Linked DNA regions of Homo sapiens: region 2 is linked to region 1. Evidence: fine-mapped expression QTL. Tissue or cell type: adrenal gland. Region 1 holds a variant in brackets; the other region holds the start of a gene. All regions are shown on one strand. Distances are from middle to middle.

What was found. PIP is the estimated chance that this variant, and not a neighbour inherited with it, causes the effect.
Region 2: it holds the start of MED10, and the variant in region 1 is fine-mapped to the expression of MED10 in adrenal gland (GTEx, PIP above 0.99).

Annotation. Positions count from the first base shown.
Region 1 is chr5:6,561,726-6,569,833 of GRCh38, reverse strand. No RefSeq gene overlaps it. Among named protein-coding and RNA genes, the nearest start is that of LINC01018, 16 kb to the left of the region's middle. The variant C/T (reference allele first, on the strand shown) is at 3,857.
Region 2 is chr5:6,375,203-6,383,310 of GRCh38, reverse strand. MED10 (mediator complex subunit 10) reads left to right here and starts at 4,764. Exons shown (of 4, transcript NM_032286.3): 1 at 4,764-4,949; 2 at 6,062-6,145. The coding sequence starts at 4,828. RefSeq lists enhancers at 4,310-4,529, 4,820-5,029.

The DNA.
Region 1 (8,108 bases):
TGGGAGGCTAGGCCCGTGTAGTCTTTTCATATTTTACTGCCTGCTTTATGTTCTAGCCATACTGGCAGCTGATTAGATGGTGTCCACCCAGATTAAGGGTAGGTCGACCTTTCCCAGCCCACTGAGTCAAATGTTAATCTCCTTTGGCAACACCCTCACAGACACGCCCAGGATCAATACTTTGCATCCTTCAGTCCAATCAAGTTGACACTGTATTAACCATCAGAATATGTCATTCTTTTGTCTCTTGATTTATTAATTTAATTTAGTTAAGTTTCTTTTATGGAAAATATCAATCATACAAAAGTGGGGAGAATGGCACAATGACCCTTCCTCATGCAGCTGTCACCCAGCTCCAACAAGTGACAACCTTTGTCTAATCTAGTTATATCTATGCAGACTGGTCCCCTGATGCACACACACACACACACACGAGACACTATCATTTCATTCATAAATTTTCAGGATGTGTTTTCTCTTAACACAAATGTGATGTGATTTTTCTCACCTAAAGGCAGAGTTGAATTCTGCTGTGCTCCAGTTTAAAAACAAGCTCAGGATCTTAGCAGCTTGAAGGACACATTGTGTTGCTACTGTATTATCCCCTCCCTCTCCCGTCTTTCCCCTTCCCGTCTTTCCCCTTCTTCCCGTCTGATTTCCAGGGGACTATCAGCTCCAGGAGGCAGGGCCCCTGTTGAGCTTGTGCACAACTGTCTGTGTCTTAGCACCCTGCACTTGGGAGTACTCGATGCGCACTCATAGAATGCATCTGGATGTCCTGAAACAAGCCATTTCCTCCCCATTTGCATTTCTTTCCAAAATGCATTTCCACGCCCTGCAGGGCTCTACTTCTTGCTCTAATAAACTGAATCCCCTTCAACAAAGTCAACTGGTATTTTAATTTTCATCTTGTGAGAAGTGGTTTCCCAAATGATTATCCAATCTAGTGGTTCTCCACCCTGGCTGGCCATTAGAATCACCCGAGTGGCTTTGAGAAAACCCTGGGCCCACCTTAGAGAACCTAAGATGACAGGTCTAGGTGGGTGGGTCCCTGGGTGGTCTTGATGGGCAGCCATGGTGGAGAAACTATAACCCAGCCCATTCTCAAAGCACTGACAGTATCCAGAGGGCAGACAGGCTGGTTAGTGGAAATAACTGCTCTGAATGCCTGAAATCATTTGCTTGACCCAGTTTTCTTTCTTTCAAGCCCAGGCAACAGCTGGGGCCGGACTATTAAGCCAATGAGCTCAGCCTAATTGGAAACCACCAGGGACCTCATTGTCCAGTGAGATGGAGCAGCTCGTGCTGGCCCTTCCAAATGCGCGTGTCTTACAAGTGATGCTTCCCAGGTGTTACACAGAGGCAGGGCCCTTCGGAAAAGTCAAGACTCATCTTTATTCCTTCAACACCCCAGACTAAAACCTTTTTTCCCCCGAGGCTCCACAAACTAAGTGGAGAACCTCAGTGTGCACCTGTTATCACCTGGGTGCTTTCGGGTAAATGAGATGCAGTGAAACATCTTATGGGCATGGGAAGGTGTGATGGGCAGAGTTCTAAGATGGCCTTCAGGATTCCTGTTCCCTGGTGGGTATGCCCTGGGTAATCCCCTTCCCTGGGTGGCAGGCAGCCCCTCAGAATGTGATGGGACATCATGCCCATGAGAAGGCTGCCAATCAGTTGACTTTGAGTTATCAAAAGCAAGATTACCCTGGTAAGCCTGACCTGATCAGGTGAATCCTTAAAAGGGACAATCCCTTCCTGGAGCAAGAGATGGCACATCTGAGGGACCCTTGCCAGATGCCATATGGCAGGGGCCTGTGGGTAGCCTTTAGAAGCTGAGAGTGGTCCCTGGCTGGTAGCTAGAAAGACAACAGAGACCTCAGTCCTGCTAAATTCCCTATAACCCCAAAAAGATGGGGGGTGGATCTTTCCCCAGGGAAGCCTCCAGACAAGAACAGTTTACTGAAACCTTCATTTCAGCCTGGTGAGCCCCTGAGTCCCAGGCTCCACAGACAACATGAGATGATAAATTTGTGGGATTTTTTGTTTGTTTTAGTTTTATTATTGTAGTTATATATATATATACACACACACACACACACACACACACACACACACACACACACACACATATATATATTATAAAACATTTGTCAGTTTAATCTTTTTTTTTTTTTTTTTTTGAGACCGAGTCTCACTCTGTCCCATAGGCTGGAATGCAGTGGCGCAATCTCGACTCACTGCAACCTCCACCTCCCAGGTTCACGTGATTCTCCTGCCTCAGCCTCCTGAGTAGCTGAGATTACAGGCGTGTGCCACCATGCCTGGCTAATTTTTGTATTTTTAGTAGAGATGGGGTTTCGCCATGTTGGCCAGTCTGGTCTTGAACTCCTGACCTCAGGTCCTCCTGACCTCCTTACCTGCCTGTCTCAGCCTCCCAAAGTACTTGGATTACAGGCGTGAGCCGCCATGCCCAGAGCTGTTTAATCATTTTAAGTGTACAATTCTGTGGGGTTAAGTACATTCATGATGTTGTGCCACTATCATTACCGTTTCAAAATATTTTCCTCATCCTAAACGGAAACTCTAGGCTATTAAACAATAACTCCCCATTCCCCTCTCTGCCCAGCCCTGGTCACTGCTATTCTACTTCCTGTCTCCATGAATTTGCCTATTCTAGGTCTCTTGTATAAGTGGAGTCACCATATTTGCTTTTTGTTTGTGGGATTGGCTTATTTCATTTAGCATAATGTCCTCAAGGTTCATTCATGTTGTCGCATGTGTTGGAATTTGTTTTCTTTTTACGGCTAGGTAATATCCTATTGCATGCTGCCCTCTACCCAGAATGACTCTGCAAGTCCACAGGCACCATTCATGCCCAGGTGGGCCCTGATCCTGGGCTCCCTGTGCCCTCATAACATGGACATGCTGAAGCTTGGTTGCACATCTTCAACAAGAAAGGACGTAAACATTTTATAGTGAACATTTGGGGAAAGTTTTTGATGCAACAGGGACTTTGCTAGAAATATCATTCTCAAACATATATTGGATGTTGTTCTATTATATCTTTATTTGCACATGACAAACTAAGGCTTGGGAAGATGGAGCAACTTGCCCAAAGGGATGGGCACTGTATTCAAAAGATCATGTTGCCATGGCTACAGTCTGTACCACTCCATGGCAAGTTACACTCTCAAGCTAACTAGACTTCTAGGGAAACTGAGGAAGGAGCAGGCTGTTGAAGAGAGGAGCCCAGAGAAGGCGCTACACCTGAATTTCTGGGTTCTAATTCTAGGCTAACTGGACTTTGTTCAGTTCTTAATGTGAAAGTTCCATTCAAAACCTCTGCTCCTCTGCGCTAGAGCCAAAAGGAGCAAAATTTTTCTTATAATCAAAATGACTTAAATAAAATAAACCACTACGTAACTCTCTCTTGTTACATTTTGCATTTTTTTTGCATAAGAAATTCCAATGCATTGCAAAGAGGCTGGGAAAAAATGAAAGCAAAATGAAATAATTCGTATTTTCTTATTTTATTTTAAATTGACAAATAATAATTGTATATATTTATGGGATTCAGTGTGATGTTAAAATATATGTATAGATTGTGGAGTAAATAAAGCTAATTAACATATCCATCACCTCACATACTTACCTTTTTTTTGTGGTGAGAACATTTAGCGATTTTGAAATATAAAATATATTATTATTAATAGATCACTAAAACTTATTCCTCCTGCCTAAAACTTTGTACCCTTTGAACAATTCTTCTTTTTTAACACATGGCAATTAATACTGTTATTTGTTCTTTATTCATTTAACTTTTTTCTATATCAAGATATGTTACAAAATGTGA[C/T]GTTAGCACCTACAGTTTTGTCATCTGCATGAACGCTAGATTACTAACATCTTTTTGTAGTTGACTAGGTTTCATTGAATAAATGAGCCATAATTTATTCAATAGCATATTATCAACTGTCTGTGTTTATGTTGTGATCAGCATCATTGTTAACACAAAGATTGTTTTAATCGATTGTTCTCTAACTGAAACCAAGGTGGTCACTCTTTCTTCCCAGTGGGCCTGTACGTGGAGAAAAGAACCGTATTATACCAATTCAATTAAGCCTGTTGTGTTTCTGGAAATATGCCAGCAGTTGGCAAATGCTTGTTTGTTGATAAACTGATGGACTGGTTCACTGTAAGGTGACAGACAGCATGTGAGATTGCTACATGGAAAAACATTTCTAACCCTAGCTGCAGATTAGACTTACTCAAGGGGGCTCTTCATAATTACAATGGCTTGGCCCAATCCCCCTGAGATTCAAATTTAATTGAGCTGGTGGGTCCCTCATAAGCATTTTTATAAAAGATCCCCAAGTGATTTTAATTTGTGTCCAAGCTGAGGAACACTGACATACTCAGTCTCCAAAAAACACTTGCTTGTGTATATATTAATAACTATAAAATGCCCCTCTTGTCCCATTTTGAATTCTTTCCCATCTTGCTCACTGGGATGAACAGGTTTGTTTGAGGAGGCCAATAAGCTGATTTAGAAAAGTTAGTTTATTCGAGAGAATTTTCCTCCCTCATTTGATGAGCCAGGTCTGACCTTAAAACCAAAACTAAACAAGGACAGTTCAAGAAAACCAAATTGTAAGCCCATCTCACTTATGAAGATGGATGGAAGGATCCTAACAAAATAGCAAGCTGCACCCTACAGTGTAGAAAAATGAAAATTAATATGTAGAAATTGCCTAGGAACTCAAAGATGATTTAATATTGGAAAATGTAAAAATCATTACTGTTTTGAAAGAGGAAATCATCTCAGTAGATATAGAAAAATCGTTTGATAAAATTACCCATTCGAAATGAGAAATAAAAACCTTCTTTTAAAACTAGGAGTAACTAACAGTAAATGTTCCTGACCTGATAAAGAATTATCTAAAGATATACAAAAAGAATCATTATAATGATAAAATATTGGAAGCACCTAGTTTAAAAATAGCAAGACAAGGATGTCCTATACTACTATGCTTCTCTTTGACATTATATAGGAACAGGAATTAATAGCATATGATAGAAAAAGAGAGAAATTTGTCATTATTTGCAGGTGATATGATTATCTATAGAGATTACCCAAAATTCTATAAATTATTATAAATAAAATATGTTTAGGCTGGGCGCGGTGGCTCAAACCTGTAATCCCAGCACTTTGGGAGGCTGAGGCAGGCGGATAACAAGGTCAGGAAATCGAGACTATCCTGGCTAATACTGTGAAATCCCATCTCTACTAAAAATACAAAAAAAGCCGGGCATGGTGGCAGGCGCCTATAGTCCTAGCTACTCAGGAGGCCGAGGCAGGAGAATGGCGTGAACCCAGGAGGTGGAGCTTGCAGTGAGCCGAGATTGCTCCACTGCACTCCAACCTGGGCGATAGAGCAAGACTCCGTCTCAAAAAAAAAAAAAAAAATATGTTCAGGAAGGTGGCTGGATATAAAATCAATACACAGAAGTCAATAGTAAAAAAGTTATAGAAAAAATTATAGAATAAAATGCTGCAGATTGTCTTGAAATAAATCTAAGAAATCATTTGTAAGACCCACACAGAAAACCTGTATACACAAATATTTTAAAGAAGTACCAAATAAATGGATATATATCCTGTGCTTATGAGTAGGGAAACTTTATGTATGGTAAAGATAATTCTCTTCCAATAGATCTCTAGATTTAATGCAGTGCCAATAAAAATCACAACAGGGTTCTCATAAACCTGGATTTTAACATGTGTAGAGAAGATCAAAGGGATAAGAATAGCCTTCAATCTTCTAAAAATGAAATACGGAGAAGGAGGATTTGCCTATCAAGGTTAAGACCTATTTATTAAGCTGCAGTAGTTAAGACAGTGTGGTGCTGGTACAAGGATAAGAAACTGAGCAATGACTCAGAATAGAACACCAGAAACAGAACCACAGAGTAGGACTACTTGATATATGACATCAGTGGGATGAAAGATCATTGGCTGAAGGGGAGACTGTGTAGTCGATGGTGTGGGAAAAGCTAGTTTTCCATTGCTTATGTAGAAAAAAGTAAACTGGATCTCTACCTCACAGCATATACAATAAAAATTTGAAATATCAAAAGCAAAACAAAATTTTTAGAGGAAAATATAGGTGGTTATTTTCCTGACCCTGGGATAGGAAAATATTTCTTAAAAGAGGCACAAAAAGCCTAAACTCTGAAACATTGATGAATTTTGCAAGTTAAAGAAAACACATTTCCTGCAGAAAGTACCAACACAAACTATATGAAACAAACTTCTAAAAATTAATTAAAAAAAGACAATTTAATTTTAAAAAATTGGGTAAAATCATGAACAAGCATTTCAAAGAAGAAAAAATACAGGGAGCCAATAAGCTATGAAGAGATGATACATATCACTAGTAATCAGGGACATTCTAGTCACACACTAACATAGCATTGCATACCAAATTTTGATTGGCAAAACCAAGAAATCTGATACTACCAAGTATTGGAGAAGAATGGATCAAGAGTATATTTTATACTTTACTGGTGGGAACTTCAATTAGTACAACCATTTTGCAAATTAATCTTGTAAATTTGAATATTAGCATACCCTGCAATCTGGCAATTCCATTTGTAGGTATATGTACCTAAGACAAATGCTTGCAAATGCATGTAAGTTATGAAGAAGAATGCTTGTAGCAGCTCTGATTTTAATAGCAAAAACCTGGAAACATCCCAAAGGCCCATACAGATCTGAATCTATTCATATAATAAACTATTATACAGAATTGAAAAGGAATGAACTACAGCCAGATTCAACACATGGATGCATCATAGTAACATAATGTTGCATGAGAAAGCAGGTCTCAAAAGACTCATATAATATGATATTCTTTTATATAGTTTTAAAAACTGCGATAAGAACACTTAAAATGAGATCTATCCTCTTAACAGATTCTGAAATGTACAATACAATGTTGTTAACTATAGACACAATTCCACACTGTAGATCTCTAGAATTTAGGCATCGTGTATAACTCAAACTTCATAACCATCAAATAACAACTTCCCATTTCCCTCTTCCCCCAGCCCCTGGGGGTTGCCATATATCTTAGAACATTTTCTGTTGCTTATAACAGAATACCTGAAACTGGGTAATTCATAAAGAAAAAAATTTACTTCTCAGAGTTATGGAGGCTGAGAAGTCCAAGGTCGAGGGATCATATCTGGTAAGAGCTTCTTGCTGGTGGGGGCTCTGCAGAGTCCTGAGGCAGCACAGGGAATCCCATGGTGAGGGACTGAGTGTGCTATCTCAGATCTTTCTTCCTCTTGTTTTAAAGCTACCAGTTTCCCTCACATGGTAGTTCATTAACCCATTAATCCATTCATGAATGGGTTAATCCTTCATGAGGGCCAAGCCCTCATGATCCAATTACCTTTAAAGGCCCCACCTCTCAATATTAAGTTTCAGCATGAGTTTTGGAGGGGATATTCAAACCATAGCACCATTCTACTATAATCGTCTATGTGTTTGACTATTTTAGATACCCCAAATAAATAGAATCATGTAATTTTTGTCCTTCTGTGACTGGCTTATTTCACTTAGCTTAAAGACATCAAGTTTCTTTCATGTTGTCTCATATGACAAGATTTGTTTTTCAAAAGGCTGACTAATATTCCATTGTGTGTATGTGTATATATATAATTTCTTTTTGATAAACATTTAGGTTGCTTCTACATCATGGCTATTGTGAGTAATGCTGCAGTGAACGTGAAAATGTAAATATCTCTCTGAGATCTTGATTTCAATTCTTCTGGATACATACTCAATTGAGGGATTTCATATGGTATTTCTGTTTTTCTGTTTTTAACTTTTTGAGAAACCTCCATGCTGTTTCCCATAGTGGCTGTACCATTTTTCATTCCCATCAACAGTACAAAAAGGTTCAAATTTCTCCACATTCTCATCAACACTTGTAATCTTTCATTTAAAAAAAAAACAGCCATTCAAACAGGTGTGAGATGATATCTCACTCTGGTTTTGATTTGTATTTTCCTGATGATTAATGACATTAAGCATCTTTTCA
Region 2 (8,108 bases), 190 kb after region 1:
TGACAACTGATCTAATTCTGATAATATCTTACTTAAGACTTTTGTATCTACTTTCATAAGGAAGATTGACCTATATTTTCTTGTATTGTCCTTGATGATTTTCATATAAAAGTTATACTGCTCTTTCAAAATGAGCTGGGATGTATTTCTTCTTTTTCTAGTCTCTGAATGTATCTGGGTAAGTTTGAAATTATTTGTTCTTTAATGTTTGATTTTTAAACAATTAGTATAAAAAACTGTCCGAGCTTATGTCTCTCCTATCTTTGAAAGAGATTTTTGCCTACTGGCCAGTTTATTGAAAGACTAGGAACTATTCTAATTGTTTATTTTTCTTAAGTTAATTTCTGGTAGTTTCCTAGAAAATTGTTTATATCTTCTAAGCTTTCAAAATTATGAACATATAAGTTTTACCCTCACCCTCACTCATTTATAATACTGTATATTTTTCTCTTTTAGCACCTTTCTTTTCTTCTTCTCTGATGAGACTTGCCAGAAGTATATATATTTGACTCATCTTTTCAACAATCAACTTTTCTTCATTTTTATCTTTCCAGCTTCGAATGCAGCTAGACAGAAAACTAATGCAATAGTTCTCATTTTCATCAGTGTCTGTCTTTACTTTTGTCACCCCTTTTTATGTATTTTTTGGTGCCTGTGATTTCCCTTTTGATTCTTTTTATCCTACTCTTTGAGTTGAAACTCCAGTTTATTTTTTCCAGGCTGTTTTCCCTCAAATTATTACCTCAGGAGTAAAGCAGAAGTTTGACAGGGAATTCTTGTCATTTAATTCCAAATGTTTTATAATTTTCCTTTTAAATAGGATGTCCACATAACGTATCAACCAAACTGGGACATGTTTGACAGTGAGTGGAAGAGTGCTATTAATAATCACACGAAGACAACAGACATAATTGGGTCTTGCCCATTCTCAGATGTATGTAAACTCATGAATTATTTAGAGTGTGTTTTGATTTTCGAACGTGTATGTATGTGTAGAAAATGAATAAATTCATAGATTTCTACTGGAATTACGAGGTCAGAAAATCTGGTCTATGTGATAGGATCTGAGTTTGCTGAAACTTTCTTTGTGGTCTAGGGAATGGTCAAGTTTTTGTAAGTATTTGAAATGTGCTTGGAAACAATCTATTCTTCAGGGGTCACTGTTTTTCAGAGATCACAATTCTTAATATATTACTTAAGTCTTCCATATTCTTCATATGCTTTTTGGCCTACTTGATTTATTGTTTTCTGATAGAGGTACTCCAAATCCTCTGTAATAATTATGGATTTTGAATTTTTCCTCATATTTTGTCAATTTTTGTGCTAGATAATATGGGACTATGTTGTCAGTTGCTTATAGGTGAATAGTATTCTATCTTTAATGAGTCTTCTCTTTACCATTAAAAGCATCTTTTTAATGTTTCTTTACTAACTTTTATATGCATTAACAACTTTCTTTTGGTTGCCTGCCATATATTATTCTATCCTCCCTCTTTATTTTCAACCTGTCTATAAGTTTGTTTTAGGTGTACCTTTGAAAAGCAACATAGCTAGATTAAAACAACAAAACAAAACACTTCCAATTGGATTCTAATCTGAGAGTCTACCCTAACAGTTAAATCTGTTAACATTTAACTGTTAGGATAGACTAACAGTTAAATGTTAAATTAAATAATTAATTAATTAATTAAATTAATTAAATGTTAAATCTGTTAACATTTACTGTGTTCACTAACGTATGTTTTTAGTGGGGAAGGCACACATTTAATGACAGGGAACACAGTTCATGATACACTTTTTAATTTTATTTTTAATTAACAAATAATAATTGTCTATTTTTATGGGGTACAGATGTTAGAGGCATTTGAAGCAGAGCAACTCCATCTTGAATAGGAGCTGGGTAAAATAAGGCTGAAACAAACCTACTGGGCTGCATTCCCAGATGGTTAGGCATTCTAAGTCACAAGATGAGATAGGAGGTCGGCACCAAATACAGGTCATAAACACCTCACTGATAAAACAGTTTGCTGTAAAGAAGCCAGCTAAACCCCACCAAAACCAAGATGGCAACGAGAGTTCTCACTGCTATACTCCCACCACTGCCCTGACAGTTTCCAAATGCCATGACCTGTTAGGAAGTTACCCTAAATGGTCTAAAACGGGGAGGCATAAATAAGCCACCACTTGCTTAGCATACAATCAAGAAATAACCATAACAGCAAGTAACCAGTAGCCCTCGGGCCGCTCTGCCTATGGAGTAGCCATTCTTTATTCCTTTATTTTACTAATACACTTGCTTTTACTTTACTATATGGACTCACCCTGAATTCCTTCTTTCACAAGATCCAAGAACTCTCTCGGGGTCTGGACTGGGACCTCTTTCTGGAAACACAGATATCTCTTTGACATAGTGATTTCAATTCCTTTGAGTATTGTGAAAGGAAAATAAATTTTGGGGCCCCCAAATCACTAAGCTAAAGGGAAAAGTCATGCTGGAAAATGCTCAGGGACAACCTGCCTCCCATTCTATTCAAAGTGATCCCTTTGCTCACTGAGATAGGTGCATATCTGATTGCCTCCTTTGGAAAGGCAAATCAGAAACTCAAAATAATGTAACTATTTGTCTTTCACCTACCAGTGACCTGGAAGCCCCCTCCCTGCTTTGAGTTTTCCCGCCTTTCTGGACAGAACCAGTGTATACCTTACACTTACATATTGATTTATGTCTCATGTTTCCCTAAAATGTATAAAACCAAGCTGTGCCCTGACCACCTTGGGCTCATGTCATCAGGACCTCCTGAGGCCGTGTCATGAGTGTGTGTCTTCAACCTTGGCAAAATAAACTTTCTAAATTAACTGAGAACTGTCTCAGATATTCAGGGTTCACAGTATATACTCAGAAGTAGGACTGCTGGATCATATGGTAATTCTGTTTTTAGAGTTTTGGGAAACTTCCATTCTATTTTCCATAAAGGCTGCACTAATTTACATTCCCATCAACAGTGTACAAGGGTTCCCTTTCCTCCACATTTTCACCCACACCCATTGTCTTTGGTCTTTTTGATTATAGCCCTTCTAACAGTGTAAGGTGACATCTCATTATGCTTTTAATTTGTATTTCCCTGATGATATGTGATGCTGAGCATTTTTGCTGGTCATTTTTATGTCTTCTTTTGAGAAGTATCTGTTCAGGTCCTTTGCCCATTTATAAATTTCTTCTTTTGCTTTTTTGCTGTTGAGTCGTGTGCCTTTAATTTTTGCACTTTACGTTGTGAGTTTTATTTTCCATGCTTGTTCTTTGCTTCTTTATTCTCTTCTTTTCTTGCCTTCTATTGAGTTGATTGTGTTTTCTTTATTCCCTTCCCCCTGTCTACTAGTTTGGGAATTATATATACTAGCAAAGAGATACCCTTAAATTTTTAAAATAAATACTTACCAAAGCCTAAGTTCCATCAATTATCTATCTTTCTTACTTATGAAATTGAGAAAGGCCGTTCACTCCATGTCGCTACCTCTACCTAATAACTTAAAATTTTTTATTTGTCTAATATTTTATTTCCACCTTTTTTTTTTTTTTTTGAGTCTTGCTCTGTTGCCCAGGCTGGAGTGCAGTGGCATGATCTCGGCTTACTGCAACCTCTGCCTCCTGGGTTCAAGCAATTCTCCTGTCTCAGCCTCCCAAGTAGCTGGGACTACAGGCGCACACCACCATGTCTGACTAATTTTTGTATTTTTAGTAGAGACAGGGTTTCTCCATATTGGTCAGGTCGGTCTCGAACTCCTCACCTCAGGTAATCCACCTGCCTTGGCCTTCCAAAGTTCTGGGATTACAGGCCTGAGCCACCACGCCCAGCCTCCATCTTGTTTTATAATTCCCTAAAGTTAATTGTTGTTAAATCAGGAGAGAAGTATTTTATGTAACATTTCTGTTTATCAGCCCAGCCCACCAACTGGAGTGCCCTGATTCCATAAGTTTGGCAAGTCACTTACCTTCTCTGGCTTTCCATTTCTGGTCACAGCTGGGAGAGGCTCTGAAGATCATCTAGCAAAGGAGCTCCCTCACTTTGCCTGTTTCTAGGCACTGAAAAGTACAGGCCACAAATATATTCAGTAAAATAAATCACTTGAGAAATTCAAACAGGCTAGAGGAGATATCCGCTATCATAGGAGATCGGGCAGAAAAGTTTCTTAAACATAAGAGTGAAATGACCTAAACTGAATTTCAATGAGATAAACAGCAGTTTACTAAGACAGGGCAACCCCACAGGGTGCTGTTTGGTCAGAATTGGCCCGAGGAGGTGAGACCCTGACCTACGAAGGCAGCAGGTGTCCGGGAAGCATGGTTAGCAGCAAGAGCTAGGGGAGGTGGCCGCCGATTACATAGAAGAAAGGAGGCAGGCAGGCGCTGATCCCAGGGGTTCTGGTAGAGGGGCAGGGAAACTACCGTTATTGGTCCTTCATGCAAACTTTAGGATTTTCATCCATGTGTGTATTGCTTGAAGATGCTGCATTGCAGAAAGTCTTCAACTTCTCCCATGACCGAGGCAGGTCTGATGAGAGTGCAAACAGTTAGTACTCGCCCAGCTGCGCGCCGAGGCCTCCTCCAGAATCCAGACCGCATCCCCGAAAGCCCGCCCTGCCCCGCACTTAGGCCCCGCCCCAACACGCCCGTCCCGATAACGAGGCTCCGCCCCCAAGAGCTCGCCCGCGCTCCCCCAGAGGAAACGGAAGTCGTATCTGTCCGGACGGAAGCAGGAAGCGGGAGCGTAGGGCCACGCCTGCGGCGCTGCTGGTTGAGGCTGTGTGGGTCGGGGACGGGCCGAGGCGATGGCGGAGAAGTTTGACCACCTAGAGGAGCACCTGGAGAAGTTCGTGGAGAACATTCGGCAGCTCGGCATCATCGTCAGTGACTTCCAGCCCAGCAGCCAGGCCGGGCTCAACCAAAAGCTGTGAGTGGCGGCCCGAGGCTGCCGGGGTCTCCCCAGGGCCTGGCCGGGAAGCGTGTGCTAGGGGAGCGGGGATCTAGGGAGCCCGAGCCGAGCCTGACCGCTACTCGTGCCCCGCCAGCCCTCTGGTCTGGTCCCGGAGCCCGGGGCGCCTTTCCTGGCTGTGTTCAGAGGGCGGGGCCCGCGCTCCAGCCTGTTGCCAAGAGCCAACCTCTTTGAGGCCCCTTTGGAGACGTCGTCATGGCCAGATGATATACTTTACGTTTCCCTATCAAGGGAATCATGCTTTCTCTTCTAGCGTCTCCCCTCTCATGTGTAACCCCCTCCCAGCCTTTTCCTCCTGGAGCCCTTCTGGGAATTCAGTCCCTGTCTCCAGAGGGGAGGCAGGCTCCACAGTGAGTGCACGCCCTAAACTAGGCCTCAGAAGGTGAGGCTCCGAAGCCACCTGCCGCATAGGCCTGACAGTGGAGGAAATAGCGGGGAGGTGGTGCTGAGAAAGGTTGCAGAACGTTTATTATTATTATTTCTTGGCAACAGCCTTGTGCTGCCCATGTTGCTAGGCCCTGGGTTGGAGAAAAGGCAAATGCAAGTACAGCACTTTCGAGAAGGGCTTTATATGTGGCACGGACATAGAAAATGTTGCACTCGAGGTTCCATACCTAGTGCTGTGGGAATAGCCAGACCAGCCTGATGCTGTAGGAAGGCTCCAGAGAGGAGAGGAAGCTAAACCAGACAGTATGGCTTTCTTTCCCTCAGACTTTGAGTATAGTCCGCTGCCTCATGTGTTCGCTGAAACCGCACACACAGTCATATGCACAGTCAGGTAATTGTTTTTGAGAGAAGGTTCATATTTTTCATCAGGTTCCCTCTCCATCCCCCTTACTGGCAATTTCTAGTTGAGAAGGAAAGTAACAAATATTTAAGGGTATTTTGTAACTCTAACGGTGTCCTAGGAATCCTGTAGCTAACCAAAGAGGTCAGAACCGTGTGTAACCCGCATAGCTGTGAGGAGAACGAACTTGCGTGGAGCCCCGGTTGGCTGGGTAGCTCTGTGGGTGGTGCTTATGCTGTCAAGCGAAATTAACCAGATGCCTGTGTGTTTGCCTTTCCCCCAGGAATTTTATTGTTACTGGCTTACAGGATATTGACAAGTGCAGACAGCAGCTTCATGATATTACTGTACCGTTAGAAGTTTTTGAGTAAGTAACATTCTTGATATTAGTCTTGGGTATAAATCTTGTTCAGTTATGGTGTGGTATCGTGACTTCTTCATCACTGGCATTCGAGTGCCTGCTGTGTGGTAGGCACAGCCTGGGTGCTGGGGATGTGCCAGTGGAAAAAAAAATAGACAAAAATACAAAAATACCTGCCCTTATGGAACTTCCGTTCTAATGGCATTACAAAACGAAAAAAAAGAATATCCTTAATATTCTATTGTGGAAAAAAAGTTACATGTAAATAAAAGCTTATTAAATATATGAAATACATCATAGGTCCTCAAAGCCCTGCTTAGGCTAAAGAACAGCCACAAAACTTTCTTTTTTCCTTAAGAGGTGAAAAGTCCTATGAGGGCTATATTGTAAATTTTTAAAAAATGGCAGCCAGAAGCACCTGAAAAGCAAGCTGGTCTGATGTTCCCAAACTGCCCGTGGAGTGCTAGTTCTGAGAGGTGAAAATATCTGCTCTGTCGAAGGAGGAAAGAAAGGGTTCTTATTCCAAGTATGTTTGGGGAGGCTGCTCACTGTTTTCTGTGCGAGAGTTGTGTGCACCTATGTTAGTAATAGTCCTGAGAACACATACAGGAATGAGCTTTTAGATTTTTAAAATCCAGGTTTTCTTGCATTGATTTGGTCACATCTCTGATTTCACACATGAAGGACCTGATAAGTAACTGCAATAGGTTGTTTACCTAGTAAGTGTCAGAGTTAAGACGAAACCCCCGGACTCATACTTTCTTGACCAGTGCAAAGCAGCCTCTCCCTGATGGTGCTGGCTTGGAACAGCAAGAACATTCTAGTATTTCTTGCAGCAAAACTGCAAATGTAAATCACTAGATTTCGTTAAGCAGTAAAGGGAAAGAGTTATGGCTGTTTTCCATCCCAAAAGGTCAGAGATACAAGTTCTAGCTATAGTGCAGCAGCTGCCTACAAAGACAGGACACAGAGGTGGTTTTCTTGGTCTCTGATCTTCTGTTCACCTGCTGATGACTTTGCCCCATGTTCCTTACCTGTGCTCAGTGGGCACCACTGAGGTCTCTGACTTCAGGTGGGACGAAGGTCTTGCACCTCAGGTAGCTCCAGACTCAGCTTTGGCTTTCTCAGTCCAGGAATACAGAGCATCCTCCTTTGTGCTCTTCTGATTATGAATGCAGGGGATGCATATAGTGACAAGTGGCAAGTAACTACTTGTGTCTTCTGAAGCAGAACAAATGGAGACTGATGTGAACAGACTGCTTAAGGGCCGAGGGAAGTGCTGGGCACGGGGATGGATGAGATTGACCTGGGGTATCAGGAAGAGTATGCCAGTGAGCCCTAATACAGAGCAGATGCTGGGAGTTTATCTGCAAATCGGTGGTTGGTGTCTACCCAATGTAGAAGGAATTTCCAGGTCCCAGTGGCCTTTGCAGCGTGTACATTTTCATACACACCAACTGTGTCTTTAGCTAAGGTGAAAGCAGCTTGGCCCTTGTCTCCAGGACTTTGTGTGTGGGCAGGAGTGGGTTCACCCTTCGGTCTTCAAAGAACCAAGTCTGAGCAGGATGTCCATGCTGTTGAAGAAACGACCGTCAGCTGACATGGTTAACCTTATTCTGTGAGCCTGTCAGGTTTTTCTTGAGAAATGGATAGATTTTGTTTAGAATTAACCATAATTTTGCCACATTACATTATTTCAAAAACACTGAAATGAAATAGAATTTCTAGAACTTGTGATGTTTTTATCTTTTGCTATCTATCAAGGCTACTTTTTATACCATTAGTAGTAACCTAATGATATCTTGTTCTGAAGTGATTATATATTTTTGGCCTCAATTATAAAATTCGAAAGTAGAGTTAGTTTTCAGTTTTTGTTTTTTGTTTTTTAAATAATGAATGATTCAGTTTAGTTGAATGATAAGGATTTCTTTAGGGTACAGAAAAAGGTAGGTGGCCTGCTCTTGGTAAA